3 separate regions of the Homo sapiens genome follow, and regions 1 and 3 are each linked to region 2. The links come from fine-mapping of genetic effects on gene expression. A gene starts in region 2. Each other region holds a variant in brackets. All regions are shown on one strand. Distances are between the middles of the regions.

Region 1 (2,763 bases), 180 kb before region 2:
CCTCACCACCTCTGCTGCTATCATCCTAGTCCAAGCGGTCATCACCTCTAATTTGGACAACTGCACGGATTGCTAGCTGGATTCCTTGCTTACATGCTTGTACTTTTATAACTTATGTTCTGCAAAAAGTCAGAGTGATCTTTTATAAAAAATGAGTTAGAATATATCACAGCCCTGCTCAAGACTTTCTGATGACTCCCTTTTATGGTTGAAAACCCTTACCAGGTCTAGGTAACCTGGCCACTGCCGTCCCTGCCCTTTCAAGTCACCCACCTGCTCTTTCTCTGTGTTCCAGCCTCACCAGGCTTCCTTCTTGATTCCTTGAAGTATGTGCTGCTCACCCTCCCTAAAATGCTTTTCCTCCAGCACATCGTGTGGTTAATTCCTTCTCATCACTGAAGTCTCAGCTCAAAAATCATTTCTTCAGAAGACAGCCCTCATTCTCCTCACCTCTATCCCACTATCCTGTCTTATTTTCTTTACAACCCTTAATATTACCTAAAATTATTCTCTTTCTTCCTTTCTCTTTCTTATTGTCCTCTCTCACTTTAGCAGAGCCTGTCAGGGCAGGCATCTTGTCTGCCATGTTGACTACTGTATCTCAGTGCCTAGGACAATGCCCACTTCTTATCAGATGCTCAACAAATATTTGTTGAGTAAATACCTAGTGTTCTTGCTGCTACCACAAGTTCTCTTATTAGCCGTGTACTGAGTATACAGCGGTGACTGACATATCCACCTCCCCTGGGAGGTTTCCCACTGAAATTACCCTGCTCAGGAACCATATTTATTTTATTTTATTTATTTGTTTTTTGAGACAGGGTCTCAATCTGTCACCCAGGCTGGATTGCAGAGGCACAGTCACGGTTCACTGCAATCTCTGCCTCCCACACTCGAGCAATCCTCCCACCTCAGCCTCCTGAACAGCTGGGACTACTGGTGCATGCCACCACACCTGGCTAATTTTTTGTATTTTTAGTAGAGATGAGATTTCACCATGTTGCCCAGGCTGGTCTAGAACTCCTGGACTCAAGTGATCTGCCCCCCTCGGCCTCCCACAGTGTTGGGATTATAGGCATGAGCCACCACACCTGGCCCAGGGGCCCTATTTTGAGAACCAGAGCTATGCTGCTTTGTGCAATGAAGTAAATGATGAGTTCCCAACCCATTAATGTAGCCAATACATAGGCTGGCAATCAACCACTTTAATGTGGTGTGGTCTGAAAATATGGACTGGGCCATTCAGATTCCCTCTCTGGAAATCTTACTAGGAAAAAAGAGCAACTGAGGGAGGTATCAGTTGGAACTGAGACTGAAAGATCATGAAGTAGTGAGAAAGTGGAGAGAACATGATGGTCCACGTGCAAGCCAAAGTTGTGAAGAAGCAAAGAGAATAGATAAAAACCTATGAGGGGCCAGGCGTGGTTGCTCATGCCTGTAATCCTAGCACTTTGGGAGGCCGAGGCAGGCGGATCACCTGAGGTCAGGAGTTCGAGACCAG[C/A]CTGGCCAACATGGTGAAACCCTATCTCTACTAAAAATACAAAAATTAAATTAATAAATAGTACATTGTAACCCAAAAAAAAATACAAAAATTAGCCAGGCATGGTGGTATGCGCCTGTAGTCCCAGCTATACGGGAGGCTGAGGCAGGAGGATCGCTTGAACCCAGGAGGCAGAGGTTGCAGTGAACCAAGATTGCGCCATTGCACTCCAGCCTGGGTGACAGAGTGAGACTCCATCTCAAACAACAGCAACAACAACAACAAAACTGTGAGTCAGAGAAAGAAAAATTTACCAGTGAGAGGGGAGGGACTGCCCCATGCTGTAGCTGGGTCATGTTGGTGATTTTACCAAAATAGTGCATTCTCACCTCAGCTAGGTATATATATATATATATGGGTTTTTTGTTTGTTTGTTTGTTTTGTTTTGTTTTTTGTTTTTGTTTTTTTTGAGACATGGTCTCACTCTGTCACCCAGGCTGGAGTGCAGTAGCACGATCACGGCTCACTGAAGCCTCGACCTTCCGGGCTCAGCCTCTGAAGTAGATGGGACTATAGGAACGCACTACCACACCCGACTAATTTTTATATTTTTTGTAGAGATGAGGTTTTGCCATGTTGCCCAGGCTGGTCTCAAACTCCTAGGCTCAAGCCGCTCAAGCAATCCACCTGCCTCAGCCTCCCAAAGTGCTAGGATTACAGGCGTGACTCACCACGCCCGGCCTGGGTATTTTTAATATAAGGTGTTCTCTCCATGCTGTGGGCTCTCTCAACAGCTATGGAACATACATGACATTTTTCATTTAGGAGTTCAGTAGCATTCTCATTATGGCCACATGGCCTTGAAGTTCTGTGATCTCTAGATGGCTTGGTGTCTCTCTCTATTTCTGTGTGTTTCCTGTGGCCCTGTTTTCACAATCTCTCACTCACTCTCTCTCTCTTTCTGCATTTCACTTTGTCTGTGTGTCCTCCCAATGGGCTCCCACCATGGCTGTGTGTTCTCTTGATACTTATGTGTTCTTACTATGGCGTATGTTCTCAGTTTAATGTTGTATTTTCACTACAGGTGTGTGTTTCATCTTAGCTGTATGTTCTTATTATAGTGTGCAATCCTGCTGTGGAGATTTGCTCTCCATGTGGTGATGTATTTTTCAACAGAACTTGATAGTCATAACTGGTCAAATTTGTCCAAGGGTCAGGAGCCAAAAAAATTTTGTGTGAAAAAAATATTTTCACGATTTTATATTCTTACCACTGTCCTAATT
Region 2 (2,754 bases):
AATAAATAACGGAGTTGGTCGTAACAAAAGACGGCAAGAAGGAGATTAATCCAAAGGCTCTTTGGGAGTTAGAACTGGCAGCCTTAGTATGTGAACAAAAGAGGAAATTAGAATGGATTTGAGGGTAGGGGAAGGAACGTAAGTTGTACTAGATGCCTGGTAGCTAGTAAGTAGCAGAGTCAGAATTTGAGTTCGTATTTGATCATAAAGCCTGTATACTGAACCACATCCCCTTTTAGGTTTCTAGCCTGAGGAACACAAGTGTCTTGGCAGGCTCTGACATGATCGCCATCCCATGCCCAACCCAGCCCTGTGTCCCTCCACCGCATCCCACATCCTGTCCTCAGTCCCAAAAGGCACCGTATTGAGGAGAGCTGGGATCCGACACAGCCTGCACCAGCTCCGAGAGTCTTTCCACATTCTGCTGTCTCAGGGCAAAGGTGAGACTCAGCTCTTCCTCAGGGTCCGCACGGCCCAGGGACACCCAGCCTGGGGGCAGCCTGTAGGGTCAGGGGTCAGGGACATGGCTTTGGTTAGGGTGGAGATGGAAAATATTGGTCATGGAAGGTTCCAGATTAGGAGCTGAGACCTTGGGGAGGATCCTAGGAGCAGATACAGATCACATGAGGTGAATGATAGGGGACTGAGGCTAGGAACATAGAGATGAAGCTATGGAGTGCGTACTAGGAGCTGGCACGGGGGTGAGAGAAGCTAGGACCAGGACAGTGGGAGGCAGAACAGGGTATGGGGAAGGGGGCAGTCTGTGCTAAGTCAACTCACGTCCTCCGCTGGTCGGGCTCCGGGCTGTAACTGCATTTGCCAGAGAGGATGAGGGCAAAGAGCCCTAGGAGGCTGTAGGGGCAGCAGGTGGGTTTCAGTGGGAGCTACGTTGTCCTTGTGTTCCCACCCTCCCAATGTGTGCTCCCTCCAACGTGATCCCTTTCTCCCGAGCCCTCTCAATTTCTCACCAGGCTTGGAGTCCCATTCTGCCCTTCCGCGGATCTGCTGTCATGTGACGGATCACATGAGCTCTATATTCCACCACCACTACCCCTCTGCCTAGTAACTAGTGACGGTACTGGCTCCTCCCTTGCATGGGTGGTCCCAAATGCTAGGCAAGGGTGGGGCCGCCACCCGGATTCTCCCCTCTGGCCAGTCAAGCACTGAGTAAGCCCAGGGCTCCCCACCTGCGTCCTGAGCCTGGTCCCCTGGGAATCACCACAAGTGAGTGGGCTGTAGAGACCCACAGACTGGGGTTCTTCCTAGCTGTATGACATCAGCAAAATAACCTCTCAGAGCCTAGGTTTCTGCATTTACAATATGGAGACTTATATAAAAGTGATCTGCCTCGAAAGATTGCAGTGAAAAAATTTTTTTCCTCTTTTATCCTTTATGTCCCCATATTATCAATTTTGTCTTCATTTTACGACTACATTTATGAACAGAGTAAAGCTTTTGCAAGACCAGGATCCTTTTATTCAAATCAGTTTCCAGTTTTAAGTAGCTTCCCAGGAGATCTACAATCAGCTGGGGTCCTGTTTATTATGGGTTCCCAAGGTTTTCAAGGAAATCAACTTTGTTCTAAGGGCCATGGAGGAATCTTGCATCTTGTTTAGTGGGCTCAGGTGGATAAAATGGAAACGGACCTTTGCTTCTTCTAATGGTAACTCAAAGCCCACAAGGAGGTCTGAGTTTACTACTTCCAACTGGGGTCATTACAAGAGGATTTTCAATGAGAGTTAAAACCCTGAGGATTCAATTCCCTTCCAGTCTTCCTTTTTTTCCCCCCAAAAATCCATATGGAAGATGGTGTCAGCAGTGTCATTTTAACTTCCAAAACCATTAATCCAATACTCATGTGAAATCCCTTGTTCTGACCTCAATACTTTTTAGATAGATCCCTCTACTCCTGCTGTTGTCCTACAGGCCACTGGCTTCCATTAACCTATAGATTATATTCCCACACTGAAGATTATGGCACTTCACCTTTCTGTCCATCCCAACTCCTGCGATCATTTGACCTAGATGATCAAAATATCTAGGTAAAAGACCCATTCAACACCCTAACCTTCCATTTCTTCATCTCATTAAACCCAGTGAGCATTACCTTCACTTCACTTAAGCAAACCAGTCCCATGGCTGCATTGGGCTTGCTATCTCTCAAAACTGCTCTACCTTTGAAATTATAATTATAGAATGCTTTCTTAGACTATAACCTTCTGTTTTTTCAAGCCATTGTTTTTCCTCACTCCTATTAATCTGACTTCTCTCTGTCCATTGATCCCTCCAGTTTCCCACTAAGCGTGGATCCTAGAGCTGTATTTACTAGCATCATGCTCAGAAACATTTCCCTTTGACCACAACTTTTTTTTTTTTTTCTAATTTCCTCAATCTCATGAACTTCTCAAACACTGGCCAATTGCCTTTCCCTCACAGCCTGGCTCCCCAAAGAACAGGCAACACCAGTGGTTCCCAAATCCCTTTGTATGACTGTGAAAATTTACACTGAGATTAAGCAAGGCAGCCACCTGCAGAGAGCCTGACATGACAAAGGCTCAACAAATTGAGCTCTTTTTACAATGTGGATTTTTAGTGGCCCCCAAGAAGAACAAATAAACCACTTGACTGCTCTTGTACCCACCCCAACTTATTTTAAGAACTTCGGGCCCAGAGCTGCTCATCCCCAAGATCCCCTCTCCCACCCAACTGATCCCTCTCAAGGCCCTGCTGGCCTCTTTGCCCATATTAGAGGGA
Region 3 (2,763 bases), 240 kb before region 2:
CATCTCAAAAAAAAAAAAAAAAGTTAATTCCCACATTCCAGTATGGCCGTTAGACCTTTCAAACAGGGCTTCTGCCCAGCCCCACCTCTGAGCGGATCCCTGCTCTGGAGTGACTTCTGCAACATTTTCTAAGTCTCTGATGCTTGGAACCAGCTGGGGCCAGCAGGGCTTCCCAGTGAGACACCTCAAGTCCGAATGAAGATCCATGTGAGCCACAATTTCTATTTCTTTTCTTCAGAAGAAGAAAGCACAGTCAGCCGAACGCTGTGGCTCATGCCTGTAATCCTAGCACTTTGGGAGGCCAAGGTGGGCGAATTGCCTGAGCTTAGGCATTCAAGAACAGCCTGGGCAACATGGCAAAACCCCATCTCTACTAAAAATACAAAAATTAGTAGGACATGGTAGCCCATGCCCATAGTCCCAGCTACTTGGGAGGCTGAGACAAGGGAATCACTTGAACCTGGGAACCTGAGGTTGCAGTGAGCCGAGATCATGCCACCACACTCCAGCCTGGGTGAGAAAGTGAGACCCTGTCTCAATTAAAAAAAAAAAAAAAAGAAGAAGAAGAAGAAGTAGAAGAAGAAAGCACAGGATTTTTCTCTTGGAGCATAGAAGGTCTTTCTAGGTATGACATAACACATAACCCATAAAAGGAAAGGTCAAGATTTTGACAATATAAAATAAAAATTCCACATTACAAAACCCACCATAAGCAAAATGCAAAAGACAGAAAATCAAACTGGAAAAAAATTAACACTCTCATTAGTGACAAATTTATCTTGTTGAAAGAAAAACTTCAGCCAAATTAAATTTAAAAGAGTTTAATTGAGCAATGAACGATTCATGAATCAGGCAGCCCCTAGAATCACAGCAGATTCAGAGAGACTCCAGCGGTTCCTCATGGTCAGAACAGATTTATAAATAAAAAAAGTAAAGTAATATACAAAAACCAGAAGTCGGCTCACGTAGTGAGCTCACTGCCTGTAATCCCAGCACTTTGGGAGGCCAAGGCGGTCGGATCACGAGGTCAGGAGATCGAGACCATCC[C/T]GACTAACACGGTGAAACCCCGTCTCTACTAAAAATACAAAAAATTAGCCGGGCATGGTGGCGGGCACCTTTAGTCCCAGCTACTCGGGAGGCTGAGGCAGGAGAATGGCATGAACCTGGGTGGTAGAGTTTGCAGTGAGCCAAGATCGCGCCACTGCACTCCAGCCTGGGGAACAGACTGAGACTCTGTCTCAAAAAAAAAAAAAAAAAAAAAGTGAGGTACAGAAACAGCTGGATGGGTTACAGGTTGGCCTTTGCCTTATTTGAACACAGTTTGAACACTCAGCAGTCTGTGAGTGGTTGAAGTATGGCTGCTGGGATTGGCCAAGACACAGCTATCATTACAGGTGTATAGTCTTAAATTAGGTTTTCAATCTTGTCTGCCTATTAAGCTATGTTACGATTTGTCTACAAGGACTCAAATATAGAAGTATGGAGTCCTTCTCAGGCCATATTTAGTTTGCTTTAACAATCTAAAAGCTAAGACTGAGGTGTCGGAGAAGCCAAGAGAAGAAAGTGTCAAAGATAATGAGAACAATCAAATGCATCCCATTCTGCTGAGAGGTCGAGAAGACAGAGACTGAAAAGGGCCCCTTAGATATGTTTATGTGGAGGTCACGAGGTGCCTTAGCCATTTTAATAGATTCGTGGTGGTCAAAATGCAAGGAAATGGGAATAGCATGTGCAGGACGTTCTTTTGAGATATGTTCTGTTAAACAGAGCAGAGAAACACCGATAGTGAAGGATACTGGGTTAGGTCTAGAAAGAAGCTTGCATTTGTTTTGTGTTGATTTACCTCATTTTGACTTTTAAAGATAGAATCTTGATTGGATTTTCAAATTGAGCAGGAGAGGTTGAAAATGTCAGAAAGAAAGAGTATGGCTAAGACTGTCTTTGTCCTCTAATAGCCATTCTCCCATCTTCTATGGTAGTACAGTCTGTGAATTTCAGCAGAGTAAATGACCTCCTGGAACAAAAATGACATTTCTTCACCTCCCTTGCAGTAGAATAATGTGTTCAAGTTCTAGCCATGGAAATAAGGGTAAAAATGTCTTGTGCAACTTCTAGGAAGTGTCCTTAAAGGGAAGGGCTCTGTTCTTTTTCCTGCTGGCAAGAGTGTAGAGATGATGGCTGGAGCATGAGCCACAAGGTGAAAGCCACATTTTGGGGATGGTGAGCAAGATCAAAGCAGCCTGGTTTCCTGCTCATCATATCGTTGTCATGCAAGTCCTGGATGGGCTATGTCTATGTGAGGGAGGAATAAATGCCGACCTCCTTTAAAGCTGCTGTTATTTTCAGTTTTTTGTCACTGATGACATAACTTAATATTAACTAGGAGAGGGCCAGGTGAGGTGGCTCACGCCTGTAATCTCAGCACTTTGGGAGGCCGAGGCAGGTGGATCACCTGAGGTCAGGAGTTTGAGACCAGTCTGGCCAATATGGTGAAACCCCATCTCTACTAAAAATACAAAAATCAGCCAGGCGTAGTGGTGCGTGCCTGTAGTCCCAGCTACTCAGAAGGCTGAGGCAGGAGAATCGCTTGAGCCTGGGTGGCAGAGGTTGCAGTGAGCCGAGATTATGGCACTGTACTCCAGCCTGGGTGACAGAGCGAAACTCCATCTCAAAAAAAAAAAAAAAAAAAAAAATTAACTAAGAGAAGGGGAATAGCTAATATAATCAGATCCCTGAGAGATAGAACAATATAAAAGTATCAGC

Alleles and levels. Positions count from the first base shown, and alleles are read on the strand shown. Sizes are in standard deviations (SD) of each study's normalised expression. Not every link is listed here.
In carriers of allele C in region 3, the expression in lymphoblastoid cells of the gene that starts at base 1,007 in region 2 tends to be lower than with T alone (small effect, 0.26 SD a copy in GTEx).

What was found. PIP is the estimated chance that this variant, and not a neighbour inherited with it, causes the effect. A credible set is the group of variants that fine-mapping cannot tell apart.
Region 1: its variant is the best candidate, but not a certain one, in a credible set for the expression of TPP1 in whole blood (INTERVAL, PIP 0.65).
Region 3: its variant is the best candidate, but not a certain one, in a credible set for the expression of TPP1 in lymphoblastoid cells (GTEx, PIP 0.65).

What each region holds. Positions count from the first base shown.
Region 1 is chr11:6,433,534-6,436,296 of GRCh38, forward strand. All of the region lies in intron 7 of HPX (hemopexin), which reads right to left. Among named protein-coding and RNA genes, the nearest start is that of HPX, 6.1 kb to the right of the region's middle. RefSeq lists an enhancer at 802-851 and a silencer at 2,317-2,516. The variant C/A (reference allele first, on the strand shown) is at 1,502.
Region 2 is chr11:6,618,416-6,621,169 of GRCh38, forward strand. TPP1 (tripeptidyl peptidase 1) reads right to left here and starts at 1,007. Exons shown (of 13, transcript NM_000391.4): 1 at 969-1,007; 2 at 781-852; 3 at 361-500. The coding sequence starts at 985. RefSeq lists a silencer at 728-777 and an enhancer at 1,328-1,377.
Region 3 is chr11:6,374,310-6,377,072 of GRCh38, forward strand. No RefSeq gene overlaps it. Among named protein-coding and RNA genes, the nearest start is that of SMPD1, 15 kb to the right of the region's middle. The variant C/T (reference allele first, on the strand shown) is at 1,048.